Linked DNA regions of Homo sapiens: region 2 is linked to region 1. Evidence: fine-mapped expression QTL. A gene starts in region 1. The other region holds a variant in brackets. All regions are shown on one strand. Distances are from middle to middle. Region 1 holds the start of PLD1 (phospholipase D1). Region 2 overlaps LOC105374218 (a long non-coding RNA gene).

Region 1 (4,388 bases):
ATCTTTGAAGATATGAAAGAGTTGGAAAGAAAAATCACAAAATCTCTCAGGAAAATAAAATAATTACATACAAAATCATACTACTTCTAAAATTCATGTTTGGGAGTCCATAAGCTTCAGTTCATCTCTAAACAACATATGGCATTTCCTATTTTATTCCTCTATCCCAGGGAGGCAGAAATTCAGTTATTGTAAGGGCACTTAGATAATTTTCTTTCTTTCTTTCTTTCTTTTTTTTTTTTGAGACAGAGTCTTGCTGTGTCACCAGGCTGGAATGCAGTGGTGCAATCTCAACTCACAGCAACCTCCTCCTCCCAGGTTCAAATAATCCTCCTGCCTCAGCCTCCCGAATAGCTTCGATTACAGGAACCTGCCTCCACCTCCGGCTAATTTTTGTATTTTTAGTAGAGCCGGGGTTTCGCCATGTGGCCCAGACTGGTCTTGAGCTCCTGACCTCAGGTAATCAACGCGCTTCGGCCTCCCAAAGTGTTGGGATTACAGGTGTGAGCCACTGCGCTTGGCCTTGATAATTTTATTTCTAATTAGATTTAGTAGAAAGACCTATTGTTGGAGGCAAGTGCCAAATGTTTTCATAGTGACACTTAAGAATTTGGGATGCAATTTTATAGACTGCTGCTTCTCAACCAAAAGCATTATAATTTCTAAAGACAAGCTTGTAAGAATGCAGTTACGTGTGTGCACAAGACTTATCAGACCATCTGTGACTAATAAAGCTTGAGAAAGAGGGGAGGAGAGAGGGTATTCTGCCTTCCAGTAACATGCTTGTCTGAAACTTACTAAACTCCTCTTAGGCAATACTCTGCTCAGAGAGTCATGTGTTTAATTGTAAAAATCTGTCAGTATCATAGGATTCAAAAGACATCAATCATTTATGTCAACAAGGAAAGAGTGAGGGCTGTGTGACTCTTCTATCATTAGGAAAAGATGTGCTCAAGAGACAAAAATGTGGTCTAAGGAGGGCTGAGCAACTGTAGGTTACAGGAAAACTGAGTTCCAGACTATAATTTGGCCCCCCTCCCCTAATTTGGACTGGTATATTATATTTTTCATTTCATGCAATGCCATGTGTGCAGTAAGACATTATGTAACTTGGTCAGTCGCAGTTGTGTAATATCCACTAAATGCTTTAAAGTGGCTGACGTTATTAGCAGTTTGGTGCATGGGGAGGCCATTGCTTCCCCTGGCTTTGGCGGGATGCAATATCGTGTAATGAGGTTGGAACTGGCCTATATTCAAAATTACATTCCCAAAGGGCTGCTATTCAAGCCACATGACAACTGGTTCTCTTTTTCTTAAGACTTTATTCTAAGTGGACTGAAAACAGCAAAATTGCCGTGTTTGAACGGTTCCATAGGTGGAATGGGTCTTTTCCCTGTTTTGCTCCCAATTTATTATTTTATGCTAAGATTTCTGAATTATAACCAGTTTTAGAGACATCGGGACACAAATTCCCGTCCCCCTCCATCTAAGCTGTGTGACCTCGGGCTGGTTCTGAGCCTTCATTTCCTTACCTGTAAATTGGCGATAACACTTCCCTAAGGAGGTGCAAGAAGGCTTATAAAGACTCCAGCAAAGCTCCAGTCTCTTAATTATGTCACCTCAGGCAAGTTATTTAGCCGTTTGATTTGCTGATTCCTTACTTATAAGTTGGACCAGTTGTGGCTACTATCCGCAGTAGTCGAAGAATAGATATCATAGGCAAAGCTCCGGGAAAGGTGGCTGGTCCTTGGCGGCTCGAGAGGACCTGATAATGGTCCTAATAGCGAGCATTCCCTAGGGTGATGCGGTCGAGTTATGAAACTTTGGGAAAAGAGAACAAGGAACGCGGGCGATCAGAGGCCCAGTCGCGAGACCTGCCCCGCTGGGGCCTCCAGCCGGCACCGCGACGCCCCGGGACCTGGCACCGCCTCGCTCCACCCCTGCGAATCCGGGGCGAATCCGGGCGGAGAGTTCCTGCCGGCCGCGCAGCGCAGAGCCCCCTCCGGCCCGCCCTCTCTCCCTCCCTCCCGCTGAGCTCCAGCTGTGCCAGAGGCACCCGAGCCCTGAGAGTCCGCCGCCAACGCGCAGGTGCTAGCGGCCCCTTCGCCCTGCAGGTAGGAGCCGCGCCGAGACCCGGATCACCGGGCGCCCGTGGGAGCCGGGTTTCCACTGCCCTCGCCCTCCGTCCCTCCTCCGCCCAACCTGGGCAGCTGGCCGCTCCCCGCCCAACTTGGACGGGATTTCAGCGAGTGAGTCGGCGGCGGACTCCCTAGCGATCCCCAAGGGCCTCCCTCGCACGCCTTCGGGTGGAATTCCTGCAGGGTGAAAGCTGACAACTCTGGCACGCACTTTTGCCGCGCGGGCGGCTGCCTGGAGCGCAGAGCCGCGCAGGCTCAGGCTGAAGCCCAGGCGTCCTCTGCAGGATGCACCGCCTCGCCGCCACAGGGCTTCGGGTGCAGTGTGTGTGGTGTCCCCAGGTCATCCGGGCGCCCTTGGTTCGGGTGCGCGGTGGCATGACTGGGCTGGTGGGGGCGATGGGACCGGCATCCCGTACCAACCAGGAAGTGCCGCGTCCCAAGGCTTCGAGCCCAGCCCGCAGAGCACGGTCCTGGGGGTGTGATCACAGCTGCTGACCGCGGCTCCCGCCGTGTGATGTGACCACTCGGAGGTGGGGCGAGGGGGCCGGGGGCCAGCAGCAGGGAGTGTGTAAAAGGTCTTCTTCCTCACAATACGATTGAAGGTGTTTGGGACGTAGGGCTCAGATCCAGGAGTGCCGTCCTCCAAGCCTTCCATAGGATTTTGTGACGCCCTTGAGAACCGCCCTTGTAGACTCAGTCCTGAACTACCGCCACGCCTGTATTTGCTCCTCCTCATCTCGGATTATTGCTTTCTTTACTTCCTCTGTGAAGCACTAAATACTAGTAGCTTTTTAAGAACAGACCACAACAGTTTCTTCGTTTGACCATTACTAAGTCTGCCTCCAAAATGGGGAGTTCCGTTAACTTTATCAGCCAGCCCTGCCAATTTTAGTTAAGATAAGCCTTCGTGGGCCTCCAAAGGCCTCTGAGAGACTAGGTACCCAGAGACCTCTGAGGTATGTTAAATGGTTTAGTTCGTGGTGGTGCAATGAAAACTTAAAGAAGGAAAGGAATCTGCAATTTGAACTGTTAACAGACCCCACATTTACACACTGCCTATTTGAATAAGAATCTCTTTCAGTATTAAATGTTTTGTGACACACAAATGAATTTGTACACAGTCTTTTAGCTTGAATTTGTAGACAGCCTTTAAATGTTGTTTGGGGATCTTTGGACTAATTGTATAAGCGCTCAGTCTGGCTTCTCAAGAACCAGTACAGTTAACAATCCATATAAAAAGTTGGAGTGCTGCCTGGGCGCGGTGACTCACGCCTGTAATCCCAGCACTTTGGGAGGCTGAGGCGGGCAGATCACCTGAGGTCAGGAGTTTGAGACCAGCCTGGCCAACATGGTGAAACCCCGCCTCTACTAAAAATACAAAAATTAGCCAGGCGTGGTGGCACACGCCTGTAATCCCAGCCACTCGGGAGGCTGAGGCAGGAGAATCGCTTGAACCCGGGAGGCGGAGGTTGCAGTGAGCCGAGATGGAGCCATTGCACGCCAGCCTGGGCGACAGGGCAAGAATCTGTCTCAAAAAAAAAAAAAAAAAAAAAAAAAAATTGAATGCTAAGGCTTTGAGGAAAAAGTGTCTTTACAATGTTTGTCCCTGATGACAGAATAATTATGAACTATAGTAAGCGCTGTACAATGCTCATTTAGGTTTGTAGACTTACTTATAACCAGGTAGTGGGGAACCCGGCTTCTTGGAAGTTGTATGTTTACTTAGTGTTTCTTAATTAAAATTACAAATTTTATTTACCTTTAACTCTTATAGGTAACTTTTATTTTTGTTACAAAGGAAAAGTAGGACTGTCATTATTATTATTATTATTATTTTTTGAGACGGAGTCTCGCTCTGTCGCCCAGGCTGGAGTGCAGTGGCGCGATCTCGGCTCACTGCAAGCTCCACCTCCCGGGTTCACGCCATTCTCCTGCCTCAGCCTCCTGAGTAGCTGGGAAAACAGGCGCCTGCTGCCACGCCCGGTTGATTTTTTGTATTTTTAGTAGAGACGGGGTTTCACCGTGTTAGCCAGGATGGTCTCGATTTCCTGACCTCGTGATCCGCCCGCCTCGGCCTCCCAAAGTGCTGGGATTACAGGCGTGAGCCACTGCACCCGACCCTATTTTTTTTTTTTAATAATTTGAAATTTTATTTTAGATACAGGGGGTACATGTGCAGGTTTGTTACATGGACATACAGCATGCAGCTGAGGTTGGGGGTACAACTGGTCCCGTCACCCAGGTGGTGAG
Region 2 (4,388 bases), 110 kb before region 1:
TTGAGCTTATTTGGGTCTTCTCTCTTCTTTTCTTGGTTAATCTTGCTAATGGTCTATCAATTTTGCTTATCTTTTCAAAGAACCAGCTTTTCATTTCGTTTATCTTTTGCATGCTTTTTGTTCACTTCAACTTCATTTAATTCTGCTCTGATCTTGGTTATTTCCTTTCTTCTGCTGGGTTTGGGCTTGGTTTGTTTTTGTTTCTCTAGTTCCTTGAGGTGTGACCTTAGATTGTCTGTTTGTGCTCTTTCAGACTTTTTGATGATGTAGGCATTTAAGGCTATGAACTTTCCTCTTAGCACTGTCTTTGCTGTATCCCAGAGGTTTTGATAGGTTGTGTCACTATTATCATTTAAGTTTGAATAGTTTTTTAATTTTCATTTTGATTTCATTGTTGACCCAGTAATCATTCAGGAGCAGGTTATTTAATTTCCATGTATTTGTATTGTTTTGAAGGTTACTTTTGGAGTTGATTTCCAGTTTTATTCCACTCTCTCAGTGGTCTAAGAGAGTACTTGATATAATTTAAATTTTCTTAAATTTATTAAGACTTGTTTCATGGCCTATCATATGGTCTATCCTGGAGAAAATTCCATGCACTGATGAACAGAATGTATATTCTGTGGTTCTTGGGTAGAATGTTCTGTAAATATCTGTTAAGTCCATTTTTTCCAGGGTATAGTTTAAATCCATTGTTTCTTTGTTGACTTTCTTCTTGATAACCTGTCTAGTGCTGTCAGTGGAATATTGAAGTCTTCCACTGTTATTGTGTTGCTGTCTATCTCATTTCCTAGGTCTAGTAGTAATTGTTTTATATATTTTGGAGCTCCAGTGTTAGGTGCATATGTGTTTAGGATTGTGATACTTTCCTATTGGACAAGGCCTTTTATCATTATATAATGTCCCTCTTTGTCTTTTTTAACTGCTGTTGCTTTAAAGTTTGTTTTGTCTGATATAAGAATAGCTCCTGCTTGCTTTTGGTGTCCATTTGCATGGAATGTCTTTTTCCACCCCTTTACCTTAAGTTTATGTGTGATAGGTGAGTCCCTTGAAGGCAGCAGATACTTGGTTGGTGAATTCTTATCCATTCTGCAATTCTGTATCTTTTAAGTGGAGCATTTAGGCCACTTACATTCAATGTTAGTATTGAGATGTGAGTTACTATTCCATTCATTGTGCTATTTGTTGTCTATATACCTTGGGTTTTGTTTGTTTGTTTGTTTTATAGGTCCTGGGAGGTTTGTGCTTTAAAGAGAGTCTATTTCGATGTGTTTCCAGGATTTGTTTCCAGATTTAGAGCTTCTTTTAGCAGTTCTTATAGTGCTGGCTTGGTAGTGGCAACTTCTCTCAGCATTTGTTTGTCTGCAAAAGACTGTATTTATCCTTCATTTATGAAGCTTAGTTTTGCTGGATGCAAAATTCTTGGCTGATAATTATTTTGTTTAAGGAGGCTGAAGATAGGGCCCCAATACCTTCTAGCTTGTAGGGTTTCTACTGAGAAATCTGTTGTTAATCTGATAGGTTTTCCTTTATAGGTTACCTGGTGCTTTTGCCTCACAGCTCTTAAGATTCTTTTCTTTGTCTTGACTTTAGATAACCTGATGACAATATGCCTAGGTGGTGATCTTTTTGTGATGAATTTCCCAGGTGTTCTTTGAGCTTTTTTTTTTTTTTTTTTTTTTTTCCAAGACAGTGTTTCACTCTTGTTGCCCAGGCTGGAGTGCAATGGCACGATCTTGGTCTTTGAGCTTTTTGTATTTGGATGTCTAGGTCTCTAGCAAAGCCAGGGAAGTTTTCCTTGATATTCCCCTAAATATGTTTTCCAAACTTTTAGATTTCTCTTCTTCCTCAGGAATGCCAGTTATTTTTGGGTTTGGTCATTTAACATAATCCCAAACTTCCTGGAGACTTTGTTCATTTTATTTCAGTCTTTTTTCTTTGTCTTTGTTGGATTGAGTTAATTCAAACACCTTGTCTTTGAGTTCTGAAGTTCTTTCTTCTGCTTGTCTGATTCTATTGCTGAGACTTTCCAGAACATTTTGCATTTCTCTAAGGGTGTTCTCTATTTCCTAAAGTTGTGATTGTTTTGTATTTATGCTATCTATTTCACTGAAGATTTCTCCCCTAATTTCTTGTATCATTTTTTTATTTCCTTAAATTGGACTTCACCTTTCTCTGGTGCCTCCTTGATTAGCTTTATAATCAACCTTCAGAATTCTTTTTTTAGGTAAATCAGG[G/A]ATTTTTTCTGGGTTTGAACCCCTTGCTGGTGAGCTAGTGTGATTTTTGGGGGGTTGTTAAAGAACCTTGTTTTGTCATATTACCAGAATTATTTTTCTGATTCCTTCTAATTTGGGTAGGCTATGTCAGAGGGGAGATCTGGGGCTCAAGGCTGCTATTCAGATTCTATTGTCCCACATTGTGTTCCCTTAATGTCTTCCCTTTTTCCTAGGGATGTGGCTTCCTGAGAGCTGAGCTGTAATGGTTGTTACTTCTTTTCTGGATCTAGTCACCCAGCAGGGCTACCAGGCTCTGAGCTGGTACTGGATGTTGTCTGCACAGAGTGCTGTGATGTGAACTGTCTTCAGGTCTCTCTGCCATGGATACCAGCACAGTATTTGGGTACACAGGAGCAATCCGCTTCCTTCAGAAGGTCTGTCAATTCTCTCGGCTCTCCTGGTATATTCATGCAATAGTTCTGGAGCAAAAGTTCACAATGCAAGTCCCCACATGCTGCTCTGTCCGTCTGAATGGGAGCTGAAATCCAGTCATGCCTCCTATTCACCATTTTCCTTCTTTCAGTTGATCTCATTCTTTTCTATAGCTGAATAGTACTCCATTATGTATATGTACCACATTTTCTTTATCCTTTCATCTGTTGATGGACACTTAGGTTGCTTTCAAATGTTGGCGATTGTGAATAGTGCTGCAGTAAACATCGGGAGTGAAGATATCTCTTTGATATACTAATTTTCTTTCTTTGGGTTTTGTTTTCCCTTTCATTTTTCTTTTTCTTTTTTCTTTTTTTTAGAGGGAGTCTAATCTTGCTTTGTTGCCCAGGCTGGAGTGCAGTGGTGCGATCTGGACTCACTGCAACCTCTGCCTCCTGGGTTCAAATGATTGTCCTGCCTCAGCCTCCCGAGTAGCTAGGATTACAGATGCGCACCACCACACCCAGCTAATTTTTGTATTTTCAGTAGAGACAGGGTTTCACCATGTTGGCCAGGCTGGTCTTGAACTCCTGACCTCGTGATCTGTGCGCCTCAGCCTCCCAAAGTGCTGGGACTACAGGCATGAGCCACTGTGCCCAGCCTTGTTTTCCTTTTCTTATTTACTACAGGAAAATTAATTAAGCTTGTCAACCATATTAATGATTCTGTTTTCTGCCTTGTTAATTCTGTTCTCCACTGCTTCCAGTTCAGCACGCAGTCTCACAATTGCATAGTTATTTTGAAAATGTTCTTTCTTTAGTCACCTGGTTCTCCTTTTAGTCACCTGATTTCCCTTTCTAGCTTAGCTAATTCTTTTCTCAACTCTGCCTGTTACTGATCAATTTATCTTTTATCACTTTTTTCAGAGTGTACATGCATTTTGAAAATTAAGAGCACAATATAGATGCATTTAAAAATTTATGTTTCTAAAGTAGATAGGTTTTTATAGTCTGATCTTCCTCCACCTTTTGCATGCTATGTTTTCTTTCCTTTACACTACAAATTCTCCTGTGGGGTTATGGCAGAATCTGCTAGTTGTCCCTGTGTGTTCCAGCCTCCCTGGTAGCTAGATGTGTTCATAAAACTAAGTTCCAGGGGCTCACGCCTGTAATCCCAACACTTTGGGAGGCTGAGGTGGGCAGATCACTTGAGGTTAGGAATTCGAGACCAGCCTGACCAACATGGTGAAACCCAGTCTCTACTAAAAATACAAAAACTAGCTGGGCATGGTGGTACATGCCTGTAATCCCAGCTACTCAAGAGGCTGAGACAGGAGAGTAGCTTGAACCCGGGAGGCAGAGGTTGCAGTGAGCCAAGATCATGCCACTGCACTCCAGCCTGGGCAACAGAGCGAGACTCTGCCTCAAAACAAAAACCAAACCAAACAAAAACTAAGTTTCAGCCAAAGGGATATAAATAGATATGCTATGTACAACTTCTGAGGAGTGTCTTTAAATAGAAAGAGGAGTGCCTTTTTGCCATATTTTCTTGTAGCTGGAATTCAGATGTAATGACTATAGCTCAAGCAGCCTTCTTCCACAGTGAGGTAGAAACCAAGTGCCAAGGATGGCAGAATAGTAAAATAGAAGCATCCCAGGTCCTTGACACTATTGAGCACTGTAGCAGCTCTCAACTGCCTGCTTTTGAACTTCTTTTAGATGACAGTGAACTAAATTTCAT

What was found. PIP is the estimated chance that this variant, and not a neighbour inherited with it, causes the effect.
Region 2: its variant is the best candidate, but not a certain one, in a credible set for the expression of PLD1 in whole blood (TOPMed, PIP 0.53).

The regions. Positions count from the first base shown.
Region 1 is chr3:171,808,125-171,812,512 of GRCh38, reverse strand. It overlaps PLD1 (phospholipase D1), which reads left to right and starts at 2,030. Exons shown (of 27, transcript NM_002662.5): 1 at 2,030-2,114.
Region 2 is chr3:171,918,701-171,923,088 of GRCh38, reverse strand. All of the region lies in intron 2 of LOC105374218 (a long non-coding RNA gene), which reads right to left. Among named protein-coding and RNA genes, the nearest start is that of TMEM212-AS1, 20 kb to the right of the region's middle. The variant G/A (reference allele first, on the strand shown) is at 2,238.